Linked DNA regions of Homo sapiens. The protein of the gene in region 1 interacts with the protein of each later gene in a pairwise test. Each region holds a gene or a part of one and is shown in the gene's direction. Other genes may lie near its edges.

Evidence for each region.
Region 2: the proteins of CCNQ (region 1) and PTPN5 interact in a two-hybrid assay, tested with the Homo sapiens proteins (one large-scale study listed by BioGRID and IntAct).

What each region holds. Positions count from the first base shown.
Region 1 is NC_000023.11:153,588,885-153,592,697, reverse strand, and holds part of CCNQ (cyclin-Q), read left to right. Parts: coding exon 1-192; intron 193-3,813. UniProt on the Homo sapiens protein: Activating cyclin for the cyclin-associated kinase CDK10.
Region 2 is NC_000011.10:18,727,115-18,730,113, reverse strand, and holds the end of PTPN5 (tyrosine-protein phosphatase non-receptor type 5), read left to right. Parts: intron 1-295; coding exon 296-456; intron 457-547; coding exon 548-661; intron 662-1,086; coding exon 1,087-1,180; coding exon of another isoform or gene 1,181-1,803; 3' UTR 1,804-2,186; downstream 2,187-2,999. UniProt on the Homo sapiens protein: May regulate the activity of several effector molecules involved in synaptic plasticity and neuronal cell survival, including MAPKs, Src family kinases and NMDA receptors.

The sequences.
Region 1 (3,813 bases):
CTGAACCGCCACAGCTGGCAGCGGACCCCTGTTGCCGTCACCGCCTGGGCCCTGCTGCGGGACAGCTACCATGGGGCGCTGTGCCTCCGCTTCCAGGCCCAGCACATCGCCGTGGCGGTGCTCTACCTGGCCCTGCAGGTCTACGGAGTTGAGGTGCCCGCCGAGGTCGAGGCTGAGAAGCCGTGGTGGCAGGTGAGGTGGCTGCTTGGCACACTGGACGTGCCCCCTTTCCCTCTGGAAGTCTCTGTATTGCAGTGCTCACCAAATTCTATTAATTATCCATGAAGAAAGATACGGGCTGCTGGGGAACATGGAAGCTCGAAAGTACCCTGTTGCGATGGCCTGGGACAGGCTCTCCCCCTCGGCACAGTTGCCATTTAGGGGTCCCGGATGTCGAACAGGAGTGCTGGCCTCCACCGACGTCGCCGGTGTCCCGGGAGGAGGGTTGCCCCAGCGGAGAACCGCTTTTACTGAATTGAGTGGGAACTTGACTGTGATCACAGGTTACTAAACCTGGCTTCCCATCAGAAACATCTGGGGTGCTTTATGGAGAGGGCTGGATGGCTAGGTAGGTGACAGCTAGCTGGCTAGTTGACAGACACCTGGATGGATAGGGGAGAGAGCTGATGGGCAGGGTGGCGGGTGATTGATAGGTATTAATAGGTAGATCATGGAGGGTAGATGGTGGAACTCTGTAGGCCTGTGCATAGGACAGCTTTCCAGGTGGCTGGTGCTGTTCTGCATAGAGGTAGCCCTGCCTCTCTTCCCTGGCCCGTGTGCCTTGTGGAAGACCACAGCATTTGCTGATTTTTGCGTGTTTATTGTGTAATCTCGTATCCCCAGTCAGCTGTGAGTGCCTGAGGCTGGGCATCTCTTCCCCAGTCTCCCGCGCCTCCCTGGCACCAAAGCGGGTGCTCATGTGTCTTTGAACCCATGCACCCATGTTCCCAGTCTCAAGCCGGAAGCACCCTGTCCCCAAGGCAGTGTGCAGGTGGTGCAGGGCCATCTGTGTAGACAGTGTTGCCCCACGCTCGGGCTGCTCAGGGACTTTCACATAATGTGGCTGCCTCGTGCTCAGGGTTGGACTCTGGGGGGGGCAAACACCCTCTGGGGACATCTGGTGGGTGTGGCCCTGGCCCTGGGCTGCCTGGCTATGCTGCATCTGTCTTCCTTTCTGCTCTGTCTTCTGCGCTTGCTCGTAAACCTCACCTGGTGTGGCAGTACCACCTGCGTCCCATGCTCAGCCCCTCCCAGAGGAGTGCGAGCCCAGGTAACCCTGCACAGCCAGGAAGCAGCTCTACCAGCAAGTTGTTTGCTGGCGGCCCAGACTCACCCAGTCATCGTTCAGACTGGGAAGAAGTTACCCTTTGTGGGGTGTGGAACTTCTGTTCAGCCAGCTCTTCTTAAAGGCTCTGCTAAACTTGACCTGACCTTTGCCTCCCAGCTCGGGGCTGTGCACCAGAAGCTTCCGGAATCCAGGTGCCTCCTGTGGGCTGGCGGGGTGCGAGGGCCTGATCCCCCATGATGAGTGAGATCCTGGGAGGCCTCACCCACCCGGGTGCTGCAGAGCTCACGGCCTGGCTTTTGAAACCCTTTCTTCCTTGTGTGCTCTCGGCTGCCACTTCTTACGGTGACTCCTGTCACTTATCTGCCACGGGCTCAGCATGGCAGCTTGATGTGCTTCCCTGGAGAAGCCTGCCTGCACTCTGACTTGCCAGATGAGCAGGGACAGTAGCGGGGTCAGAAATGATGCAGGTCGTCACGCAATGCTGCTGAAACTTCCACGTCCAGAGCCACACCGAGTGCCCTCCATCCCCTTGTTCCTGAGCAGAAGGAGAACCTGCCTCTTTCCAGCCACTGCTGCTTTTTGTCTTATAAGCAGATGGACTGCCCTCAAAAAGGCAGAGTCCCCAGAGGCCAGCAGTGTCTCCTCCTAGGACTTGGGTCTGTGTCTCTTCTGCTGTCAGGTGCCCCAGGGTTGCCACCTGTTCTGGACTGTTACATTTAATTGTGGTGACATAGACATCACCTAAATTGTACCACGTTCACCATTTTTAAGTGTGCGGCCCAGGGACGGAAGCACATTCACGGTGCTGTGCAGCCATCACCACCATCCAGCCGCAGAAATTGTTCATCTTCCCAAACTGAAGCTCTGGCCCCGTTCAACCCCAACTCCCCACCCCCAAGCTCCTGGCACCCAACCTTCCACTGTCCTCTACAGAGTTCACGGCTCTCCTTTGAGGCCCCTCACAGGAGTGGAATCCTACAGTGCGGGCCTTTCTGTGACTGGCTTCTTTTGCTGAGCACAATGTTGGAGCCCCCGTCTCAGAATGTCCTTTCTTTTGATGGCTGAATCATATTTCATGGCCTGCATGGACCATATGATATTAACATATTCATCCATCGATGGATGCAGGCTGCTTCCACGTTTTGGCCTTGCTTTTTTTTTTTTTTTTTTTTTTTTTTAATAGAGACAGAGTCTCACTCTATTGCCCAGGCTGGAGTACAGTGGCGCAATCTCAGCTTACTACAGCCTCCACCTCCTTGGTTCAAGTGATTGTCCTGCCTCAGTCTCCTAAGTAACTGGGATTACAAGTGCCTGCCACCACACCTGGCTAATTTTTGTATTTTTAGTAGAGACGGGGTTTCACCATGTTGGCCAGGCTGATCTTGAACTCGTGACCTCCAGTGATCCACCCGCCTCGGCCTCCCAAAGTGCTGGGATTACAAGCGTGAGCCACTATGCCCAGCCCCTGAATGTTTTTTAATGATTGCTTCTGAGCTTGGGGTCTCCAGGAGCACACAGGTCATGGACCCCAGCAAGCAAGTGTGCATTTCTGAAGTATTTGTTTTTCACCCAGAGCCCAGGGTAAGACAGCTATGCTTCCTGAGTCAGGACTTGGAGGGCGTCCAGGTCACCATCTCCTACCTGAGGTTGTAGGCCACAGAGGAACCTAGGGTTCTTTGGGAGCATTCAGCAGGGGTGGACGTAGGTCCAGTTCTTGCCTTGACTTGGCCCAAGGCCTTGATCTGATTGGTACATTGGTTCCCCAGGCAGCAAGCTCTGGCACAGGGTGGCTACAGACGCAGCATCTGACCAAGGTCTTGCTGCTTTACTTACTATTTCCCTTATCATTGGGGATCCCGAAGAGCACCCTGGGGCTCAGTGCTGTGCCGGGAGGGCTCGGAACTCAGAAAAGCTGTCACACTCCCAGTTCCGGTTTATTACAAGGAAAGGACACAGGTTACCGTGAGCGAAGGCTCAGGGCGCACAGGGCGGGCTCCAGGAGAGACCAGGCGTGAGCTTCAGCGGCTCCTCGCCCAGGGGAGTTGTGCAGACGGCACCTGTTTCTTTCGGCAACAGTGTGGGACAGCGAGCACGGAGTCACAACCGGGAAGCTCATCCCAGCCATGGCGGCCAGGGTTTCCGTGGGAGGTGGTGGGCTGCATGGGCATGGAGCGCCTGCGTGGCCAACCCTGGTCACTTGGGCTGCAGCCACCAGAGATCTGGCTGGGACTCTGTGGCCCAAGGCCCTCACCATAAATGATGTGGTTAGCACAGACCGCCTGGCAGTCCAGTAAACCAAGACGCTCACACGGGGCAGGATTTTCTAGGGGCCTAGAGGTTATCCTCCAGGAGCCAGGCAGAGGCCAGACCTGCCTTTGGAAGGTACAGGGTGTGGACCCCAGCCTGTGGCGTGGCCCTGGGCTGCAACCCTCCTGCCATGGGCCCCGAGGATGTCCTTCGCCGTCTTGCGAGTGCTCCTGCACGTGGCGGTCCGGACTGTGGAGTGGGTCCACATGCTCCCCAGG
Region 2 (2,999 bases), on another chromosome or scaffold:
TAGTAATAAATTGGAGAAGGGGCTCTTGGCCCCTCTTGGATGATCCTGAAGTTGTTGGGGCAGGACCAAAGGCAAGATCCATGCCAACGCTGCTGACCAACCCCCAAAACCAAGCTGGCTTTGGGTCTGTGTCTGGTGCCACTGGGCAATGTGGCCTAGATGGAAGGGTGAAGGGGTCCCACTCTCAGTGTTCTTCCTGTGTTCTTCCTCCTTCCATCTCATCTCTATCTCTGGGCTGGTTTGTGAGCTGAAAGAGTTCACACATACCTGGGGTGGGCCTCTGTCTCCTCGACAGAGTGGGACTGAGGAGCGAGGCCTGAAGCATTACTGGTTCACATCCTGGCCCGACCAGAAGACCCCAGACCGGGCCCCCCCACTCCTGCACCTGGTGCGGGAGGTGGAGGAGGCAGCCCAGCAGGAGGGGCCCCACTGTGCCCCCATCATCGTCCACTGCAGGTGGGTCCTCCCAGCCAGCCACTGGAGCGGGGCAGCCCCCCACCCGCTGGGCTGCCCTGCCCCTCACCCCACCGGTCCCCTCGGCCCTCAGTGCAGGGATTGGGAGGACCGGCTGCTTCATTGCCACCAGCATCTGCTGCCAGCAGCTGCGGCAGGAGGGTGTGGTGGACATCCTGAAGACCACGTGCCAGCTCCGTCAGGACAGGTCAGCCCACGGGCGGGAGTGGGGACACACAAGGGAGCTAGAGCCCCGAGCGGGTAGAGGGAGAGACCCACATGTGCATGGGCGGGGGGTGAGGGGCAGATGGAAAACACTGGCACGGACTGATGGGCAGACAAGGAGTAGCGAGGACAGCTGGGTAGAGGGGCAGGATCCAGACAGTGGGGGGCCAGATGAAGAGGGAAGAAAAGCAGAGCTGGTGGATAAAAGGACAGAGGCCGAAAGTGGTAGGACATGTCATCTGTGTCCCTGATAGGAAGGGGCAGAGGGTAATGGTTGGCAAGGGTTGGTCTCTCCAAGACGCACAGGGGCAAGGCCTGGCAAGTGATTGCTACTCCATGGCTTTTGGGGCACCTCCCACAGCCCATCCCTCCACGACCCTGCCCCCACTGTGCATCTCTGCCGGGCAGGGGCGGCATGATCCAGACATGCGAGCAGTACCAGTTTGTGCACCACGTCATGAGCCTCTACGAAAAGCAGCTGTCCCACCAGTCCCCAGAATGACTGCGCTTCTCCTACAAGGTTCTCTGGGCACTGCCCAGCCTGAGTCTCGGCCCTCACCCAGGGCCCTGCCTCGGGTCCTGGGCCTGCTCCCCGCTTCCTCCCCTTCAGTCAGCTCCCTCTGTCCTCTGTCAGCCTGGCCTGACCCCTACCCTCCAGCATTGCTCTTCCTACTGTACATATTGGGGAGTGGGGGGCAGGGTCGGGAAGGGACATGCCAGGCCAGGCCTGGGGCCCCGGGGCCTGACCCACACCACGCAGACCCCGGGCTCCAGTTTTTAACGATGGTTCCATCAATACCTGATCCAGAATGTTTCCGTGCTACACTTTGTGTCCTGCTGCAATGTGTTCTGTCTGTCCATCCATCTCTGCCCTCTGTACCGGACACTGTGTCTCCTCAGCCAGGAAGGGGTAATGAGCTCCAGCCCCTAAGCAACCGGACTTGCCTGCCTCGGCCTCACCCGCACTTCTCCCAAAAGGCAGATGACGGGGAGTTAGGCATGGGGAGCTCCAGAAGGTCACCAGAGAGCTTTCAGCTGAGGGAGAGTTCTCTAGGTTGGAGTGGGCATCACAGCCAGGGTGGCCTCTGGGTGTCAGATGCTCTCAGGAGGGTGCCCAGCCTGTGAGGCACTGGCAAGGTAGGGGGCAGATGGGGCATGGAGAACCCAGAGGATCTAGGCCCTGTTGGGGAGGGGAGGGGAGCTCAAGGTTTGGGTGGGGACTCAGCCCAGATCTACGTGAGACATTTTTCTGTGTCACTGTGGGAAAGCCTTCCCAGAAGTCTCACTGCGTGTTGCTCTGCGTGTGTTCCCATGTCCATGCGTGTGTTGAGAGCCCATCAGGAGGGCATGCATGACTCTTTGGCAACATGTATTATCTTGGAGCCACGTGTTTTTATTGCTGACTTTAAATATTTATCCCACGGCAGACAGAGACATTTGGTGTCTTTTTATAATTCGCTCGTGGTCATTGAATAGAGCAATAAACGGAGCATTTTGAGCAAAACTAACCTCCTGGGTCTGTGTGATTTGCCTCTCCCCTCCACTGCCTTCCTTCCTGTACTTGGGTCTTTGTGCCCCTCCCCAGCATGAGCACAGTGAGCTTGGCCCTTCTGCTCACTGGAGCCCCTTGTGGAGACTGGGAGTATGGAGCGAGTCCAAATTTGTAAAGCCAAACTGGGAACATTCTGCAGGATTCTCACACAGCCTCAGCCCTGGCCCTGACACATGCTCTGGGCCATGGGGAGCCTCAAGGACAGGTGTGGAAGGCTTCCAGGGAAGGCACAGTGGCTGGCAGGTCACCATTTCCAACAGATGTGCCAGAGAAGCCAAGGCTAGGGTAAGGAGACATTCAGGTCACACCCAGGCCCCTCCCTGTTGGCCAAACTCTTATCCCATGTTAGCTCCACAGATCCCAACAGCAGCTGCAGCCCAGTAATTTCCCTTGTAAGGCCTGGGCTCAGAGTAGCTCCTCCCAAGGGGCCCAGGGAATCTGCATGTGGGCTGAGATCCTGAGCCATCCTGGACACTCCTGCTCTATTCTTGTCCCCTGCCCCCCTGGGATGGAGCAAAAGTAGCCATGATGCCACTGCTGGCAGGTGGGGGTCACCCCAGGGCAGAAGGAGGGGTCCAGGGCAAGGGTGCTGACCAACAAGTCCTTACAAGGTGCCAGAACCTTGGGTGGGATCCAGGGTCCAGGCATGCGGGGTGTGCTACAGATGATGAGAAAACAACAGGGTGGGCTGGACACGGTGGCTCACGCCTGTAATCCCAGCACATTGGGAGGCCGAGGGGTGGCAGATCATGAGGTCAGGAGTTCGAGA